2 separate regions of the Homo sapiens genome follow, and region 1 is linked to region 2. Evidence: fine-mapped expression QTL. A gene starts in region 2. The other region holds a variant in brackets. All regions are shown on one strand. Distances are from middle to middle.

Region 1 (5,380 bases), 110 kb before region 2:
GGTTAGTGATATTACAGGTAAGTAACCAAAACGACCATTCCATGCAGCTTTCATAGAGAATGATAAATGCAACACTTTCATTACGGTTGTCTAGGTACAACGGATTTACTTCCAGATCAATAGAAAAATAACCCTTTTGGTGGAACAAAATAATGTAACATTTTAAAATTACATCTATAAGGTATAGAATGAAATGTATTGAATTCACATTATCTCATTTTCTCACTTAACATCATACTACAAAGTAACAATGTGTTGGGAAAACAAATATTCCAATGATAAACTCAAAAAGCAGAATTTCATAAGATGAGAACTAATTAATCATTTATAATAACAGCATATGGGTTAGTTTCCTTACACTTAAGAAAAAAAATAAGATACTACTGTATCTTTTAAGCTAAGCTACTAAGAATGTTTTGTATTACACGGTATATACACTGGATAATTTACTATAGATATAAAAGAAAGCCATTCTGATGTAGACAATTTCTAGCCTAAACAATAATAAAGAATTATGTTTTACTCAAAAATAAATGCCTTTATTCAGCCGAAGTTTGGTATCAGCTGAAGAAATATGTTTTTTTAATCAGATGTCCCTGAATATTCCATGAATATATTTTACAAGTAACAGGACTCGAATATGAATCAGAACACTGCACCCTTCTTTGTAGCAAATAGCTCTTTCTGTGTTATTCTAATTCAGCAAACAGTTGCCTATTTTTGCTCAGAAGTAATGGACCAAAACAAGATACAAGAATAGACTGACTACACCATAAATAATTAGCGCTCACTCTCCACTTTTCTTGTTTTTCTACAGAGTCTGATTTGAACTCCTCTCAAGGCTGTCTGAAGACTAGACCTAACAAAACTCTCGACTTCTAAATCTAATGCTCATAATTCCTAACATTATAGATTATTACAATTCTACATTTCTGACAACAGGCAGATTTTGAATTGGTTCCAGCTGACTCCACCACTTACACTACTCAACAGCTGAGGCATATGATAACTTGGCAACCTGATAATATTCTAGATGAATGCAAACTCATTCTGTAACCAAGGAACTCTGTCAGAAATAAAATCAAAATGACTTCCCTTTAAGTTTAAATGAGAACATAAAATGTTTTGAACAATGCATGATTTCAGAAAGTGAGCAACCGTACTCTGAACGTTTAGTGAACTGACACTCCCTATTCAAAGCCTACAATTCTTTTCTGATTAGATCAGTCCCCACAGCAAGTCACCAGGATAATAAGCAGTGTAGTGAAGTCATCATACTGGATACTGATGGGAAATCATAACTGGCTTCAAAACACATCGGGAAACAATGAGTTTTCCAGGTCTCCAGCTTTTCATGGAATACACTGCCCAATACTCTTACTTTCCTTTCCATGACTAAATGAAACATAGCACAGCTATAAAGCCCAAGTACAAATTGATGAACTAAGCATTTTAAAAACCTTAAGTAAAAATGAGGAAAACTCCCATCATTTTTTCAGTGACGTCTGAACAATATGTTTGAAAATGTATCTGTTTAAGGGCAATACTGATTGTTGTACACTGGCCTTCAGATCTTTAATTTCCTTTTATTTCCAAAGGCAAAGACAAGCTTTTAAACAATGCCTACTTCTTTTAGACAAAGTCAAATAAGCACTCGTTTTCAGTCACCTGAAATCACCCACGTGTCACTTAAGTAAAACTTCATGTGACAAAAATTCATTCAGCTATAATTTTTTTCAAAAGTATAAAATGTATCTACTTTAGAACTTTCAGATTTTTTTATTTCTGACTGTATAGAGCACAGATGTATTTCTTCAATAAGGTTTGTTGGTCTATATTGCAATATTTCTCCTTTTCAAAGCTCTGGAAACAACTAATTACAAACCTTACTTTAAAATGGAGTGATGCAGGTAAACATGAGTATATTACCCACCCACCCACATACACACACACACACACACAAATGTCACAAATGTGCTTTAGCCTAAAATATCACTGCACTTGCTCAGTGGCAGTATTATACACAATAAGAGTCTTGGCACAAAGGAATTCTCATTGTACTGTTTACAAAATTCTACAAGGATTGCAAGAATTTCGGTTATAAAACATATCCTACAAAGAGAGAAAACAATTGTGAGTGTATTTGGGCTTTTTGGGGCTTTGGAATTTTATTGTTTAGTTCAATTTTTTTTTATTTCTACTTTCTACTAATAGAAAAACTACATGCATCATTAACCATATAATACCACTGAAATTACTGACATTGAGTTACCAAACCCAAAGCAAATATTCAAAAGATATAAAACCATCTGAATCCTACCTATGAAATGGGTCACTATTCACTATAAATACTTTAAACCTCTGTGAGCTGCTCTTGAGTTCGGAGTGTTTTGGGAGCCACAATAAAAAGATGGTATACACACACTTAAAAATACATTTCCAGACACAAAAACACTTAAAAAATGGACAGCTGCAATTTGTATTTCATCATTATATTCAACTATGAAGTCCAAGTAAACATTATACTAAAACATAAATATCAGATTGGCATAGAATTTCCTGAACATAAAGGATGGGCAGAAAAAAATCTCAAAATACATTCTTTACATTTAAATTTACAACAAACTCACTAAAGTCTTTTATCCATCACGCTATAAAATAATTTTTACAATATATCAGAGTAAGTATATAGTCACAAACTTTATCAAATAAGAAAGATCATTTTAAGGAAAATGATCTAGTGATGCTGAACCTTTTCTACAGGGCTAACCAATACCCTAGCCAAGCAGCAGCAGCAATGCCTTAGTAATCCCATAGAGAATAATCGGTATCCACCCTCCCAGGAAGAATTATGATTACGCGTAGTGCTTAAGAGCTTTTACAAGGGAGAGAAAACGCAATGTGCTTCTTGGAAACAACCCCCTTCCCCCCTCTCTACCGCTCATCTAAGGGCGTCTCCGGACTGTCGCCCACCCCACCATCCTCCCTGCGCTGGGGGTACTAAATCCCGTGCAAAAAGACCTGGTCCATTCCCAAGACTGGTCCAGACACCTGTTTACTCGTGCCCAAGGAGTGGTGGCTCTGATTAAGGAAAGGCAGCGGTTGCCTCTCTGATCAGTGCCAAGCTCCGCAGCCCCAGGGCAGGGACCACATACCTTTGTACCTCTCCAGGACATCCTCGTAGGCCTGGAGATACTCCTGCTCCTCCACGTACAGGTAAGCAGCAGGGGAGAGGTAACCCGCCATGC[C/G]GAAGTTTATCTAAGCGATGACTGACAAATTCCCCTCTCCCCCTCGTAACCCCCGGACAGTATCGCAGTCAGCAAGACACAGCCTTGGGAACTGGAAAAGAGGAAGGAGCAGCACGCTGGGGAGAAGCACGGAAGCCGAAGACGCAGAGCGGGGGCGCAGGGGGCTGCCGGCGCCAGGGCCGGCAAAGGAAACGCCCAGGCCTCCGGGCAGGCCGATGGTGGGCCGCCCGGCTCCGGGAGCCCGAGTCCCTCTCGGGTTTCAGCAGCGGCAAATCTCAGCGAGCCCAGGGGCGGCGACGAGCAGCGCCACGCCAAGCGGAGGAGCGGGGCGTGCGGCGAGGGCGGGCGGGGGCCGGCGGGCGCCCGGACCCTCTGCGGCCGCGCTGACCGCTCTGCTGGCCCTGCACGAGGCGCGTGCTTCGGGCCGGGCCGAGGCCGCGGCAGCGGTGCGGGAGGACCGGCGCGCTGCCTTCACCGGGGATGCTGCGCGGCGCATCTGCGGCATTTCCTGGCCGCCGCGCCGCAGACACTCGCCCGCGCCGGGGAGAGAGGGAGGGAGGAGGGTGGAGGGTGGAGGGTGGAGAGTGGAGGGTGGAGGGTGGAGGGTGGAGGGCGGAGGGCGGAAGGGAGGGGGCGAGCGCGGCGGTCAGCGCCCCGGCTGGCTCAGCTCCGGCCCCGGCGCCTCTCGGCCCCTCCCTCCCAGGCAGAGCCACGCGCCCCAGGCCCCCTCCCCAGGCCCGCCCACCCTGGTGGACCGTGCGGCCAAGCACGCCCACCCCCGGACACTGGCTGCCCGGTCCCGGATCCCCAAGGGCGACGTTTCTATTTGGGATCCACAACAGGTGCCTGAGAAACAAAGCCGCAGATCGCTCCACCGCTGTGCGCAGCCCCCTGCTGAGGGGCCAGCGGCTCTCCCTGGGTAAGGGATGATCGGGGGGAGGGTTGGAAATACTTTCTTCCACCCATCTTTTTGGCGTGGGAGGATTCAGGTCACTCTGTGACAGCACAGGGCAAGGAGGGCACGGGGGTCCGCGTCTAGGGGACATCCCGGGGACAGGGTGAGGAGGCCTCTGCAGGTGGCCCCGCGCATCAGCGCCTGACAGCCGGGCCGCGCCTGCGCCTGAGCTCCCGGCCGCCGCGAGGCTGCCGAGTACCAGCCTGCGGTCCCTCCCTTCTGCCCCCCAGAGCCCACAGGCGCATCTGCTGCTGGGCTCCGCGGCGGGCCTATAGGTTCACAACTGCCCCATATTTATCACCTCCCTCCTGCTCTCTCCTTATTATTCATTCTACATAGTACTAGTATCCATTAAACTGAGTAAAATGGATACAGTTCCCTTAAATTAGATATATGTGTATCATATACTAAAGTGGGTGAGTTTAAGCGTCCATTGGAGGAACCAACTGATACCCAGGCATGTAAATGGATGTGTTTAAGAGTAATGACTGGCCGGGCGCGGTGTCTCACGCCTGTAATCCCAGCACTTTGGGAGGCCGAGGCGGGTGGATCACGAGGTCAGGAGTTCAAGACCAGCCTGGCCAAAATGGTGAAATCCCGTCTCTACTAAAAATACAAAATTTAGCCGGGCGTGGTGGCGGGTACCTATAATCCCAGCTACTCGGGAGGTTGAGGCAGAGAACTGCTTGAACCCGGGAGGTGGAGGTTGCAGTGAGCCGAGATCACGCCACCGTATTCCAGCCTGGGCGACAGAGCAAGACTCCGTCTCAAAAAAAAAAAAAACAGTGAAGTCAGGCTGCTGTACATAGAATCTTCACTCCTTACTGTGTCACATGGGCAAGTTACTTATCCTCTCTGAGACTCTCTTCATCAGTAAAACAGCGATAGTAGTGCCTAACTCATAAAGTTGTATAGTAAATGAAGTTTAGAATAATGTCTGGTGTTATATAAGGATTAGCTGCTGCACCTACTACTTTATTTAGGAGGTGGGGTCTCACTCTGTCATCCAGGCTGGAGTACAGTGACAGGATGATACCTCATTGCTACTGCTATTATTAGATAAATCAGCTGATTGTTGACAGTCTGACCTATGTCAACTTCACGTCTTGTCTAAATCTTCCTTCCCTATTTCCTCCTTTCACATATACTGACCTTTTGCCCTCCATGATTTTTTATT
Region 2 (5,380 bases):
GCACTGAGCCAAATAGTGGGGATACAGCCCTAAACAAGAAAGATATGGTCCTGCCCTCAAGGAGCTCACAGTCTAGTAGACAAGGCAAATACCACACAAAGATGTCAAACTGTACCAGGAATCTTATGAAGTGAGTTAAGGCATTAAACAACTACCCCCAGCTTTCCTAACCAAATGCAAGCTCAGAACAAAAATATTCAACTGAGAGATAATTAAACAAGACATAGTTGTATCTCATTTTTTGTTTGTGCTTTAGCTGAAATATCTGATGGCTAGTATAATAATCCAAAACAGGATTATTATTCTTGTTCTATCATTTATGTGTGTGGAACTGGGTATCTCTTTTTAAAATCAAAATCTTATATTTTGGTGTTTGCACTCTGTCAATTATTTACTTCTCATCACATCTGAATGGGCTGTTCTATTGAATTAATCTCATATTCAAAAATTGTTGCTTTACGATAGTCCCGGTTTTTGATGTTTTCCATAAACTTTAATTAAGTAATTTAATAAAGACTTGGAAATTTGCAAACATTATCGTTTATTTTTATACATTTTAAAATTCAATTTTACAAAATATAATGATAGCTACCAAATACTGAATACTTATTATGAACTAAGTGGGATTTTTCTTTACACAATTTCTTGTAATTTCCTCCACCCTCCCATAACCCTGCAAGGTACTAATGGCCCTATCTTACAGATGGGTAAATCGAGGCACCGAGATGTATCACACAGCTAGTTAATGTAAAGCCAGGAATGGAACCTCTGATTACCTCACTTATCCTCTCAAGAATCCTAAACTGAATAGAGTTCTCACCTTCCAGGGCTATATACAGTAGAATTACTCTTTGTGCAACATTTTAATGATATTGCAATAATACAGTTAAAGTTTTTAAGCAACTAGAACCCAATAAAACATCTAGGGTGGCATAAAATATCTGATTAACTAATGAAATGAAAGGCAAGATAACTTCAGGTAAATGGAGGGCGTTTAACTATGAAGTCTTTGCCAACATGAGTAAACTGCACCAAGCAGCAACCTCCAAGCCTGGCGGCGTGCAACTTTCCTAAAAAGAGGGGAAATTATCTTAGGATAAGTGGAGGTTGGCCTGAAAACTCCTAAAGAAATCCTAGGTCAAGGAGCGCTTGTGTTTCTTCAGTGGAGCTGGTTCCTGGGTGCAGTGATTAGGAGTTACTTGCCCTAGAGGGATGGTCCACGTTTTGAGAGTGGAGACTAGCACAAGCATTTAAGCACACACTACCATCATCGCTTTGCAAAAATCATCAGATGGTCCCCAATAAAACATGGAGAGCTTTAGGAGAAAACAGAAATGTAAACTTGAAAATCGAAAATGAAATGCATATGGATCAAATTGTTCTGCACTAACCTCTTCGTTTATCCAAGTGAACAACCAGAGTCAACTGACAGCACCCAGAAAACACTTCCACCAGCAAAATATAAACTGTAAACTCAAGTGACATCCACCCTGTGGCTAAGTTTTTTAAGGTCTGCAGCACTTTTAGGGTTTGCCTTTTCCCCTCTTGTACAACAGCTCCACTACACAAGAAATTTGCTAAAACCGTTCGCTGGGCACTAATATGAAATCACTTAAAAGGAAACATGCCACTTTCGGCTAGGGGACAGCATGTTCGTCATTCAGTGTCCTACTGGTTTCTTAACACGCATATAATTAATATTGGTACTCAGGAAAGAGAACTTCTTCTGACCTTGAGCGTGCGCGCTAAATAAATTACCTCAGAACGAAAGTGGTGCGATCTCAAAACAGCATCTGGGGAGAAAAGAGATAAATGAGACTTCATTTAACTCCTTGTTCTTCACCTACCGAGTGACTCATGACTTACCTGGGAGACCAGGGTTGGGAAAGCACATCGCAGACTCCTGGAATTCGGTGGGACATCCTGGGGGAGGGAGGAGGAGTCCTGGGGCCATCGGTCTCTACGTGATTTCTCCGCGAGAAGTTTGCATGAAAGTTCTGGGGGAGTTGGGGAGCCCCGAAGTTTCCATGCCTTACTTTCTTACCCCTACGCTCCAGCGAAGGATGCGTGAAGGCGAGGCTGGCGCAGCCCCGGACTACGCTCAAATTACCCTTAAGGCTTTAGCAAACTGACTAAAAATTTGAGTTCTTTCCTCCCCTCCCTGCCCTCGGCATCGCCGTGGTTATTCAAACCTGGGAGACTGGAGGGCGGAGGTGACGGCAAAAAGGGCAAGGGGCGTTAAAGAAACGCACTCAGCCTGGGGAGTGGGCAATGATGGGGCTAGGGGCAGCCGAGGAGAAGGGAGCGAGCCGCGCTTCACTCTCCAAATCGGCTTAATTGTTCCTGGTAGCCCGCAGAAACCCGTCGCGGCGTGTCTTACCTCGGCTTCTTGAACGACCCGAGAAGACCGATTTCATCGGATGCCTCCCTTTCTGGAGCTTGCGGTGCCAGCAGCAGAAGAAGACGATGGTGGCGATGGTGCCCAGCAGAAGCAACAAGAGGAAGAGGGCACATTGGATGCTGTAGGGTCTCAGCAAGACGAGGAAAGCCGCGGCGATCATGGTGCGGGCGAGGCGAGGGCGACTCGACGGCGGGGCTGGAGGGCGGCGGCACAGGCACCCGCGCTGGGCGCACGCCGGGACGGCGGGCACGGGTGAGCGCGGCTCAGCGCGTCATGCCTGGCGCTCGCGGCCCCGCGCCCAGCCCAATGGCTGCGCACCCCGCGCCAGCCGCGCTACGCGAGTGATCCAGGGCTGCGGGGAGCGCTTGCCATGACTCAGCAGACAGCGACGAGGCTGCGACTCGGCGGCTGGGATCCTCTCCCCTCCCTCCCCAGGCGCCCCCGCCCCCGTCCGTGCGCAGCCCCCGGGCGCAGCCCCGCCGGGGACGCGGCGAGTGGGGAGGAGCAGCGCCGCCGCCGCGGCCGCCCGGGCCCCGCGCATCGTCCTGCGGCCGCCGCCGACCTCAGCATCCCAGAAGCCGGGCGCACGTGGGTCGGGGCGGGGACGCGGCGCTCAGGCTGCAGCCGCGGCAGCCTGCGGGGGGCGGGAATGGGGCGCCGCGGCGGGGGCTCGGCTGATGACATCACGGCCAGGCTGCGGCAGCGCGGGCGCGCGGACATGGCTGCGGCGGTTTCGGCGGCGTCCGCGGGCTGCACCCGGGCCTGAGAGCCCAGCGCCCTCCCGCGGGGCCGCCCGCCAGTCCGCGCCGTCCGCGGGTGCATTGGCCGGGTGCCTCTAGCTTCCCGGACACCCGGAGCTTCCGCCTATCCAGCCTCCCTCGGCCAAATTGCTGCGGAGCCCGTCGTCAGGGGGCGCCAAGGAGCCAGGGGGAAAACCGAGAGGCGCTGACAGGAGCCTCCCGGCGGTGCTACCCTCCACCTCCCACCTCCCTGCGCCCCGCCCCGAGGTTGGGGCTTTGAAGAATGCAGCCGGGTGAGCTATTGCTTGTGGGGGTTTCCTCGCACTCTGAAGCGCGAGCGCCGGGAAGGGCCTTCCCTGGGAATTGGGATACTCCAGGAACGGGAGGCCCACTCCTCTCCAAGCCTCTCTAAACTAGGAGCGCTCCGGGGTAGTACGCTCTGGTCGGCAGAGGTGAACTCTTCCACCCCAAACTTGGTGCTTATCTCGCAGCTAAGAATTGGGCACTTTCGATCTTCTTGTATCCCTGGGTTTGCCCTAAAACCCTGACTCATTTAGTGCATTTGAAGGGCAAGGCGATTTCAGATTTAGGGACCTGGCAGATGAAGTAAGTTGGTACTTGGCTTATAAACATTTGGGGGAGAAATTTTTTAGGGAGTGTGAGGCAATAGTGATCTCTCACACTTGCAGGCACACTCTGTCTCCCCTTTGTCCCCTCCCCACGTTTCTTCATAACCAGCAAAAAGTATATGGCAGTTGGTGGCCAGGGGATTTAACACTGATGCAATGCCAGCACGGAAGGTATAGCGAGAGCGCTGCAGTGTGCCTTTCTGCGGACGGCCACGGCCACCTGGCCAGGAAGCGGCTGCTGCAGCAGTCATTCTGCGGCATCTTGCGGCCTTGGCGGGCGGTGCTGTGCCGCGTTCTGCTGCCCCCAAGGCAATGCTGGCTTTCCCTGTGTGGGGCTGGATTGTTTGTTTCATTTACTCGCATAAGAAAACTTTAATTATAGTGACAAGGTAACACTTGACTGCATTTGCGGAGTTTCTTATAACAACTGTATTAGCCTCTTTTTTGGAATATTTAATAGACTGAAGAAATTGTGTCATAAAAATTTATAAAAATTTGAAAAGCAGGTAAATAATTGGGAGGAATAAAAGTTTTATTTGCTTGTAGTGATCTCAAAATCAGTGTTGTTTTCCAACTATACAAAACCGTACAGCTCTGCATGAAAGCTTAATCATTGATGTCCTTAAAGCCAGTAACATATTACCGTGTGTAAGTATTAAACCTAAAAAGGCATTGGTTAATGCAGTCTCTTAGTGCCAGATTCATAAGCATGGAAAACAACAGATACGTTTTGTTTACAGCTGGTTTCCTTAAACAAAATAAACATTCGAATTGTTGACATGTTGCATCTCATTCATTCAGTTGTTTTGGATTGAACTCAGAAGGGCCCTTGCTTGGAGACACTGCATAAGGTGGGAATTTTGAATGGCAGCATGTAGGCTGCACTGAATTCCAGGATAGGCTTCATGGGTCTCTAGCACTCAGAGTGGGTGACAGGTAGCACTACATCATGTGCATATGGCTAAAGGTTTCTTGATACCGCAGCCCACTGCAGTGAGAAACTATTCAACAATTATGCAGAGGTTATTGAAGAAAATCCTGAGAGTTTGCAATGTGTGGCACATCAGGAAAGGAAGAATTCTCCACCGCATTGACTCAACAATGGCATGGTGGAGTAATTTTAAACAACAAAACTGAACTAACCGTGTGCAGACATTGGGGGAAATAACTAACAGAATTTTGGAAGGTCATCTTTATGCTTCTCATTGACTGAAATTTGTAAGTGAGCTGAAATAGCCTACGTATCCTTGAACAGAAACATGTCAAAGACACACAGAATAGTATTCAAATTGCCCCAAACGCTATATTTTTTTAACAACAAAAAGCAACTAAATAGCTATTATGGTTTTCTGAGCTATGACTTTAGCACAACTGTTATCATCCTGCGTCTTGCTGCAGCCATTTATAAGTTTCAAGTGCACACAAGAACATCATTTATCTCTCTTGGCAGGCAAATGCTTAACTGCCATGCAATAGGATTATAGATATTTCTTTTTAGATGCATTCATTTCTGTTCTTTCCATCAGTTGTCTTAAAGATACTAATAATAAACAAACCAAATCCTTGAAAGAATTTAGTATTTAGTTCCATTGTTATTTTCTGATTTGTTT

What was found. PIP is the estimated chance that this variant, and not a neighbour inherited with it, causes the effect.
Region 1: its variant is fine-mapped to the expression of DST in whole blood (TOPMed, PIP 0.98).

The regions. Positions count from the first base shown.
Region 1 is chr6:56,839,900-56,845,279 of GRCh38, forward strand. All of the region lies in intron 4 of DST (dystonin), which reads right to left. DST-AS1 (DST antisense RNA 1) reads left to right here and starts at 4,087. Exons shown (of 4, transcript NR_125866.1): 1 at 4,087-4,167. RefSeq lists enhancers at 2,660-3,528, 3,529-4,396 and silencers at 3,480-3,739, 3,830-4,029, 4,370-4,509. The variant C/G (reference allele first, on the strand shown) is at 3,249.
Region 2 is chr6:56,952,027-56,957,406 of GRCh38, forward strand. DST (dystonin) reads right to left here and starts at 2,804. Exons shown (of 104, transcript NM_001374736.1): 1 at 2,381-2,804; 2 at 1,759-1,793. The coding sequence starts at 2,561. BEND6 (BEN domain containing 6) reads left to right here and starts at 3,081. Exons shown (of 7, transcript NM_152731.3): 1 at 3,081-3,434. RefSeq lists an enhancer at 1,787-2,418 and a silencer at 2,580-3,269.